Linked DNA regions of Homo sapiens: region 2 is linked to region 1. Evidence: fine-mapped expression QTL. A gene starts in region 1. The other region holds a variant in brackets. All regions are shown on one strand. Distances are between the middles of the regions.

Region 1 (4,401 bases):
CACCTCAGAAACTGGCCTTGTTGCCTTTTATCTTAGTTTTCAACATTTCTGCCTCTTCCACCCTCCCATCAATAACAACTCTCATTCCAAAACTTCTCAAGTGGAAGGAGAGCACAAGGGCCAAAGTGAAGTTTTAAAAAGTCCATTCTTCCTCTCTTCAGGTTCGGTATCCCCATAAGTAGGTCTTCCACAACTTCCCATATCGAACCTTACTGCTCTGATTCCCCAGGATAAAAAGATATGACTAATTGTTTCAGATATTAAAGACTGAAGGGTGTGCATCCAGAATCAGAACTGAGTCTGACAATTTATTTTGAAATATGCCAACATTTCAAATATGGTTTTAAGCAGTATTTACCAAACTGTGTTCTGTGGAACACTGGTGTCCAACAAAATACTAACCAATTACTCTAACAAAAGGTTTTGAATATCAGACAAGCTTGGGAAATGCAGAGTACCTTACTGTCCTCTTAGAACTCCATTAAGTACACATGTATGTTAGGTGAGAGGTCTCACAGCTCTATTTTAGTTTCCAACTCTGGGATACTAAGCTAAGTTATTCAATGTGCTTAGGTTTGCATACTTCATTGCAAATTAATGAATGGTCTGCCTGGATAATCCTCAAAATAACATTCAACTATAAAATTCAAAGACTCATTTATTTATTAGAAAAATAATGTTCTATGAGAGCATATGGACACAGGGAGGGGCACATCACACACTGGGGCCTGTGGGGGTTTGGGGGTTAGGGGAGGGATAACATTAGGAGAAATACCTAATGTAGGTGATGGGTTGATGGGTGCAGCAAACCACCGTGGCACATGTATACCTATGTAAAAAAACTGCACGTTCTGCACATGTAACCCAGAACTTAAAGTATAATAAAAAAAAAATTTAAAAAAGGAAAATAATCTTCTTAGAAAGATATGTAAGAATCCCAGTTTCACTTATTCACTTATAATACATAATTATATATAATGCATATATATAGAATACATAGGCATCTGTATCATAAGCATACAGGTAAATGCTTACGTATTCATACTTACAGCATATGTCCTTACAGCTCTTACGCTTCAGCAAGAATTTTCCAACATTGCTTTTTTAGCAAACTTTTTTTATTATAAAGCAACATATGCACATTACAGGTTATTTAGTGTAACTGACTCTACCAATCTTCTCTCCTCCCCTCCAATACTTCTAAGTCTTTGTTTGTTGTGCTTTACTTTAATCGTTAAACTTTTGGCAAGCGATGTAAATTTGAATTATTCACTTCCTGGGGTACTTTTAATTCTTAAAATAAGACACAATGGTTAAAGCTTAATCATTTATGTTACAGAGGACATTTACTGAACAACAATAATTATTGTGACATTATGGTCTAGTCTCCTAAAAATGACATTGAAGGAAAGGGAACCGGAATATTCCAGACACTACAGTAGGTCTGAAATCTCATATCAAGTCCTTAATAGGTCAAAACTTACAGCCAGTATCAATTACCTAAGGGACTTAACGAAAACGTTTATGAAATCTTCAATTGGATTACAAAAGCAAGCACATCGTTGCACTGTATCTAAGACACTCTACAGGGCAAAATCTCATGAAACAAGTATTTAAGTAGTCTAACTTTTTAATGTTGCTAGTGTGTTCCCTTCTGCCTCAGTTTATAGATTGAGTATGGAAATATTTAAGCAGGTTTGTTTTTGGTTTGTCAGTCACAGGACTTATTTAGACACTTAAATTTATGATTTGGTTACTACAGACATCAAACTCCTTTTGGAATACGGAGTATAGGGTAAGGTCACTCTAAAGCAATGATGAGAGTCCGAAGCAACAGCAACTGGATCTAGCATAAGACTAGTACAATTCGGTCTCTACCACGAAGAGAGATCTCTGTACTTGAGTGCCCAAAGGCAGAAACACACACATGCCATAAGCAATCCACATCTGTGAAGATGAGGGAGGGGTGGACTTCTTGGGATGGGCGGAAACACTTACAACTAGGGAGGAAGCCAGGCTGCGGCGGACCCAGCTGACCAAAGGAACTACAGAAGAGGACGAAGAAAGCGAGGGGGAAAGGGCGAGGGTTATTAACTGAGTTGATGGAATAAGGTAGTGGCTCCAAACTTCACGGCTCATTAGAGCTTGAAAAAAAAAAATCAGACGCCGGGTCGCACAGAAGTAATTAAACCAATCCCTCTGGCGGTGGGGCCCAGGCGTCGGTACTTTTTTTAATTTCCCACTTGAATCCAATGGGAATCCAAGTTTAAGGGCTAGAAGACCAGAGAGCGACAGACAGGGAGGAGGCGCGCCAGCCAGGGGCCGAGGCACATGCGGGCCGGCAACAGCGAAGGCTCCGCCTCTTCCTGTGGCTCGGAGGAGCCGCGGAACCCCCAACGCGCGACTCAGACGGAGACACCCACTCTTTCGGCGCTAGCGGCGGCTGGAAGGGACGAGAGCCTGGCCTAGGAGGAAGGAGGCGGCTCCAGGACCGCATTACCTGATCAGAGCCGCGACCCTCATGCTGGGCGCAGTGCGCGTGCGTGCGGCGAGCGCGGGCGGGAGCCAGGAGGTCGCGCCGCAGCTCGCGTGACGCACCGCGGGGCCTCGCCCGGGTGTTCGCTCCGCCGCCTGTCCGCGGATCGGCGCTGCGAGCCCCGCGGCTGCCTGCGGGACACCTGAGCGCGGAGGGTGCGGCACCTTGGCACCTTGACCCTGTGGCAGGGACATCTCGGCCCAGGAAAGAATGAGGTTTAGGCACGGCCTAACCACCTAAGTGAGGGCACTGAAGCTGCCGGGGGAAGGGCAAGGTCCGCGTTGCAGAGCCCAAGCCCAGTGGCGCAGGATTTGTTTTGGTAAGAGGGGATTTAGCGTCCCAATTGCTGCAAATTGACACAGTTGCGGACGTGCAAGCGCAGAAGAAATTTGTCCTTCCTCACCCCACAGAACAGAAACAACTGTACACTTCTGCTTTTTAACTTACATCTCCTCTGTCCTCCAAACCTGTGTGTCCAGATGTGAAACTCAGATCCCCAGGGGCTGTGGTAATTTTTAAATCTGGGGCTAGCCCCCCCCACCTCTAGGCCCTCTGTGGCTTTGGCTCTTGGTCAAGCTTGTGTATTTGACAAGGCCAGGCCAGGCTCTTCACCAAAGAGCAATGGCCTTGCAGAAAGAAAATCTAGCTTCTAAGTTTATTTGCCAAGTATGTATTGAGTGCCTTTCGTGTACCAGGCACTGTTTTAGACTCTGTGGATACAACCGTAAATAAAACAAAAACCCGGCATTCCGGGCATAGAGCTTAAATGGGGATGGAGAGAACAGACAATACATATCTTAAAGGTAAATAGTCTGTTGAAGAGTGAAAAGTGCTATTGGAAAGGGGCGGGGTGCGGTGGGGGAGAGTCAGGAGAGAGGTGGAGAGGCAAATTGCAGAATTAAATCGTGTCTATGTAGGCCTTATTGGTAAGATGAGAGTTGAGCCAATTTAAATAAGGAGAGTTCGCTATGTGTATGATTGGGGTGTGCTCCAGACAAGAAAAAAAAATCGAAGGCTCTAGGTGCGTTGTGTGTTTGTGGAAGATTAAGGCAGATCCGTGTTGCTGGAGCAGATTGAGCAAAGCAGAGAGTAGTGGAGAGCAGGTTAAGGTGATGGAGGGGAAGGATTATATAGGGTCTTGTAGGTAATTGCAGACTTTTGAAGGGTGTGACTTAAAATTTTAAAAGGATTGCAGTGTTGAGAATCCACCTATTAGGAAGCTGTTACAGTGTTCCAGTAGAGAGATGGCGGAGCCTAGAATCAACATGGTGAATTTGGTGAGAAGTAAGAGGATTCCAGCTCTATTTTGAAGATAGAGCCAATAGAATCAAATTCGATATGGGATACAAGAGAAAGAAAGTCATGAGGGATGATGCCAAAGGCATGAATTAAGTAAGTTAATATATGTAGGGAACTTAAAATTATGCCAGGTACATAGTAAGCATTCAATTTTATTTTGACATTCTCAACTCTAATAGTAGGGGTGACTAGAGCAGTGACAGTCTACATATCAGTTTTAGCGTCTAGAATCATACAGCTTTAAGATTTTGCAGTTATGAATATTTACCAAATGAGTCAAGTATTTAAGAAGTTTGCAGTCTAATTGGAGGAGATAAATACGTGAAACACACTTAAAATGATACAGCTCCAATGAGTGGAAGAAGCACCAGGGCTCTCGTCTCATGCCGAATTGGGTAAAATGACACAGACACACATGGAGTGGTTTTAAGGGGTGGAGAATTTAATAGGCAAGAAAGAAGGGTGAAGAAAGGAAGAAGCTCCCCTGTAGAGACACATGGAAGTGGGCTCCAAAGCCTAGAGAGGAAACCCCCAGTGCTGGGGTTAACAGGCAGTTATATGAGGAG
Region 2 (4,401 bases), 40 kb after region 1:
GACTTTCCAATCACTTGTCAGAACAGTCTCTCTGGTTTTTTAAACTCAGTGTTGTGTGTTTTGCAGATTTCATTTTACATTCAATTCAAAACCTTCCCCTTTCCCTCTATATTCAGTTATATTTATGGCTCATTTTCCTTCCCTCTTTCCTGCACTTCTCTGGTGGACATAGCTTCCTTTCTTACCTGTTTCCCTTCAAGAGGCTGTTCTCTATTTATGCTTACTGGCCATCATTCTTCTCTGCTTTCTTGGAGGGCCTGGTAATGCCCTCTCCATAATCTCCTGGAATGAGAGCTTCAGGTTGGTGTTAATCTTTTTCCCTCTCACAGCCACATACTGTATAGTTTCTTACTGGTGGGGTCCCCTTGGTTTGTACAACAGGCTTAGAGAGTTGATACTGGCAAGAGAGGTCAAGCCCAGCCATTTAACTCATGGTCTACATAGAAAATCATGGATCATGGTCCATATTTAACAGTGAATTACAGGCTGTCTCACTGCCTTTTCTCATACACCACATTCCTCTTGCCCTTTCTTCACACTCAGCATCAGCTGAGTAGCCTGGAAAGTAGCCTGGAAACTTTTAAATAAATTATCAGCAGTTGACAACTTAGCGGCAGGCAGGACTATTCCAGCAATCATTGAGAATAATTCTACTGGGCCCTTCCTCTACTTTGGCAAGAAGAAGTATGCCATCAGCCCTACTCCATGGGAAAGCAATTGCCTTCATTTTCAACTTTCCCATATCAAGTCTTTCTTTTGTATTGATTAAGGTGGTTGTGTTGGTGGTCTTTATGGTTACATTAGAAGAGTGTCTCTCTGTAAGTCCTAGAAGGAATATACTGGCTCTAATTACTGGTGTCTCTTTGAACTTAGAACATCAAGTATTTAGATGCCAGTTCTAGTTCTCACCTTACCATGTAAAAACAGAATTATCATTAAAAGATAGTTTAAGTGTGTTTAGTTTATAGGACCAGGGGAATAAACAAGGTGCACTCTTACTACAAAATATACTAAACATCATCAATATTTGTTGTCTGGTTGATTAAGTGTTTTTTGAAAAATACCCCAAAACAATAACTGAAAATTGTAGAAAGCATCTTAACCTAGTCACACATATGATTTATTTTCAGAGTTACCGTCATTAAGTCCATCTGCTGAAAATCCTCCCTCTCTCCAAAACAACTGCCTTGCATATATCCTCTTCTACTTGGGCTAAAATTGTCACTATTATGGGTTGGGGAGGGAGGTTGGAAGAGAAGAGGAAGAGAACAAGAATAATGGAGTAGTTGGGAAGACAGGGCATCCAAAAAAAAACTTTACTTACTTCACATTTTACCAGGGCCCAGCAATATTGCTCACATGATAATCAGTAGGAATTTTGTTTCCTTTTCAAATTGATTAATGAGTACTTATTAACTCACAGGCAATTAAAGGGCCAGTGGGCACAAATTCTCCGTATTTTCAGTAAATGCCGTTATTGCCTAACACTAAATAATATAGAGACTACTATTTTTAATCTTTACCACTAATTAGAAGACAATGGCACAACTTCAAATCAATCAATTCTTCACAGCTAAAAATGGAAGTACTTGTTAGAGTAAAAGCCGATGAAGGAGAGAGAGAGTGCCAGAAAGAGAGAGAGAGATTTTCTTTTGTTGTTCCTGTTTATGAACTTCTAAAAGTTAGAAATATTTCACCTAAATCTTTTTATTTTAACTCAAAATGTTATTCTATTGGGGTTATTTATCTAGATTCCAACAAACACTGTCAATTTTTTCTTATGGATTTTGTTTGAGACGTACATCACAGGTAGATATGTTTTTAAGTCGATCAATTTGACATATTAGCTTAAAATACAGCCTGTCCCTTAAGACTCAATGTCTTTGAAAATAGGAAGCTTGAGGTTGAAATCACTTAAGGCTGAGTTAGAAAAATGGCCTATATTAAAGTCAGTAAGCTTGTTTTTCTTTTGATCATGTGTAAACAGAAAATCATGTCTCACAGGTGAAATTGTGTATTATCAACCTGCCTTTCCATTGTTCTTACATTCTGAAATGAAAGCCACTAATGATGATTCTTTATTTAGAGCTATGTGTTCGTTTTACTAGACTGTCTTTAAAATAATATATAATTGGATTCAGTAGATTCAGTAAAACATGAAAAAATACATGCTAGACAAATCTATAGTAGCTGCAGAAATCTATAGCAAATACAAAAATCTAGAGTAAATTGACACTGGAAGGACAAGAGCTAAAGGGTCTGTTGACTGTAAATTTTGATATGTGCACAATGCCTACCTCCAGAAATAATAGCCAAACAGCATAATGAAACATAAGCTTCAAATGGGCCAAGTGAACAAGCATTTGACTTTTCTTGAAAATGATATAGGCTCAGTTATCTGTTTAAT[C/T]ACCATTAATTTTGCATTTAACTGCCAACTGCCTTGTTTTCTATTTAAGTTTAAACATACATAAAGCTTTTCTTTTCCATTATATTTCTTTTCAATTTCTACAGTGATCATTTTGCATCACAAAAGGAATTTAAAGAGTAATGCAAGGTACGCCTCCTAAGCCACAAGGTCAGTCTCTTCTGGTGGTGTTCTGTTTATTTGTGTCTTACCTTGAATTCCATGTCGTCTTGGACACTTTTCTCCTTCTGTAAACTTATGATGTCTCATTACAACTTTGCTGAACTTGTGGCACTTAGACATGACTTCTTTCCTAGCTTTAGTTCAATTGTTCACCCCATGACTTGGAGTAACAAGTAACAAATTAGTAGCTTATTTAATAGGGATAAAGACTGATAGTCTCACTCATGCTCTTTTTACTGGGAGTCAGTAGGCAGGAAGCTAAAATTAGCTCAGTTTTGTCAAATTGATTTGAGTTCATCCATGGTAAAATGAAATCTAATATTTTCCTTCCTCCTACATGGTTAGAAATTTTGGTTCTCAGCAGGTGTTGAATTTAAATAGTAAGAACAAATGGAAGCCACAGCTATGGCTCTGAGAACAATTATATAGGTCCTTGAAAATCCATTTCCAATCTATATTAAAAAAGAAATGTTATTTTGCAGCAATGAGGAATTAAAGTCTGCTGAAATTATTTTTTTTTCTGCTTCAAGAAATCAGTCCAGAAATCCCAAACTTTTGTAAGTCATGGTCTTCTTTGAAACCACATTTCCCTTATGTTTCACATTGTCATTGCATGAATTCTGTTACTTTGATGTCCTCAATAATTTATTACTTTTTGCATTTTTCTTATGACACAGACCACAGAGCTATAAGAAACTGACCATTGCATTTCACGTGACTTGGGCTTAAAATATGATAAAGGAAAAGAGTAAAAGTTGTCATGGTATCTTATATTAAAAAAGGTATTCTATGTAACAAAGCTTATTAAATTCAATGAGCTTCTCTGTAAAATAATGACCTTTTTATCAAATTTTATATAATGAATATTTTTCTGCAATGAAATTCTACTTGTTTCTCTCTTATAATCACTATCACTAAGCAACAGACTTATTTGCTGCTTGCAATAATGAGATACAGATGAATTCATTATAATTGTTTCATCCCACCATCCAACAACAGTTACAAATAAACTCTCCTAAAGTTTTTGCTCTTTAATTACCAAAAAAAGTTCAGCCAGAAAAAAGACTCAAATACCTAAAGTTTGATTTCACTGACCCCGAACAATTACAGTAACTAAAACTAAAAATGGCAGATACTACGCAACATCTTCCACTTTTCCTGGCAGAAAACCTTCTTTTCCTCACAAGCTAATTCAAAGTATGAATCCTATAAGATTCTTTTCATCTTTACCACTTGCTGATGGCAAACTGAATTTTAAGTAAGACTCCCTTATGAAGCAATTGTGATGCCTCATGCAGTTTGTTATACTTTTGAACTATAGCAACCTGGTAACATAGGTGAAAGCCCATAATGATTGTGAGCATGTGTGTGTGTGTGTGCGATTTTATGATGCATGGGTTTTTATTGTTCCTATCTTTGTGTCACTGTGTACCCAAAGATACTGTCACTGTTCTTCTCCCCACCAGAAGTCAGAAGCATAACACCTCTTTGTAATCTTAAAAACAGTCATACTTTCTATAAATATTCAAAATACAATCGCTTACCTGGATTAATAGAAAATATTTTAAAAGACTCCAAAATTGGAAACTAGGTCAGTCCCTATTCTCTTTCAAATTTTGGAAAATAAATGAGATTGGAAAAACACCAAGGCACACAGAAAAATTCATATTCTATCAAGGTCAAGCACAACCACCTACTTGGAGCTCAGCATGATGCTATCACTCCTGAGCCTTTTCCCCTACTTCTAATATTTTCCTTTTTTTTGAGATGGAGTCTAGATCTGTCACCCAGGCTACAGTGCAGTGGCATGATCT

Direction of the effects. Positions count from the first base shown, and alleles are read on the strand shown. Sizes are in standard deviations (SD) of each study's normalised expression.
For the expression in monocytes after LPS of the gene that starts at base 2,547 in region 1, allele T in region 2 goes with a higher level than allele C (large effect, 1.1 SD a copy in Fairfax 2014).

The links. PIP is the estimated chance that this variant, and not a neighbour inherited with it, causes the effect.
Region 2: its variant is the best candidate, but not a certain one, in a credible set for the expression of DPH6 in monocytes after LPS (Fairfax 2014, PIP 0.53).

The regions. Positions count from the first base shown.
Region 1 is chr15:35,543,619-35,548,019 of GRCh38, forward strand. It overlaps DPH6 (diphthamine biosynthesis 6), which reads right to left and starts at 2,547. Exons shown (of 9, transcript NM_080650.4): 1 at 2,501-2,547. The coding sequence starts at 2,523. It overlaps DPH6-DT (DPH6 divergent transcript), which reads left to right and starts at 2,577. Exons shown (of 3, transcript NR_038251.1): 1 at 2,577-2,855. RefSeq lists an enhancer at 1,548-2,482 and silencers at 2,530-2,669, 2,970-3,019.
Region 2 is chr15:35,583,763-35,588,163 of GRCh38, forward strand. The region is part of intron 1 of DPH6-DT (DPH6 divergent transcript); the gene reads left to right. Among named protein-coding and RNA genes, the nearest start is that of DPH6-DT, 40 kb to the left of the region's middle. The variant C/T (reference allele first, on the strand shown) is at 2,408.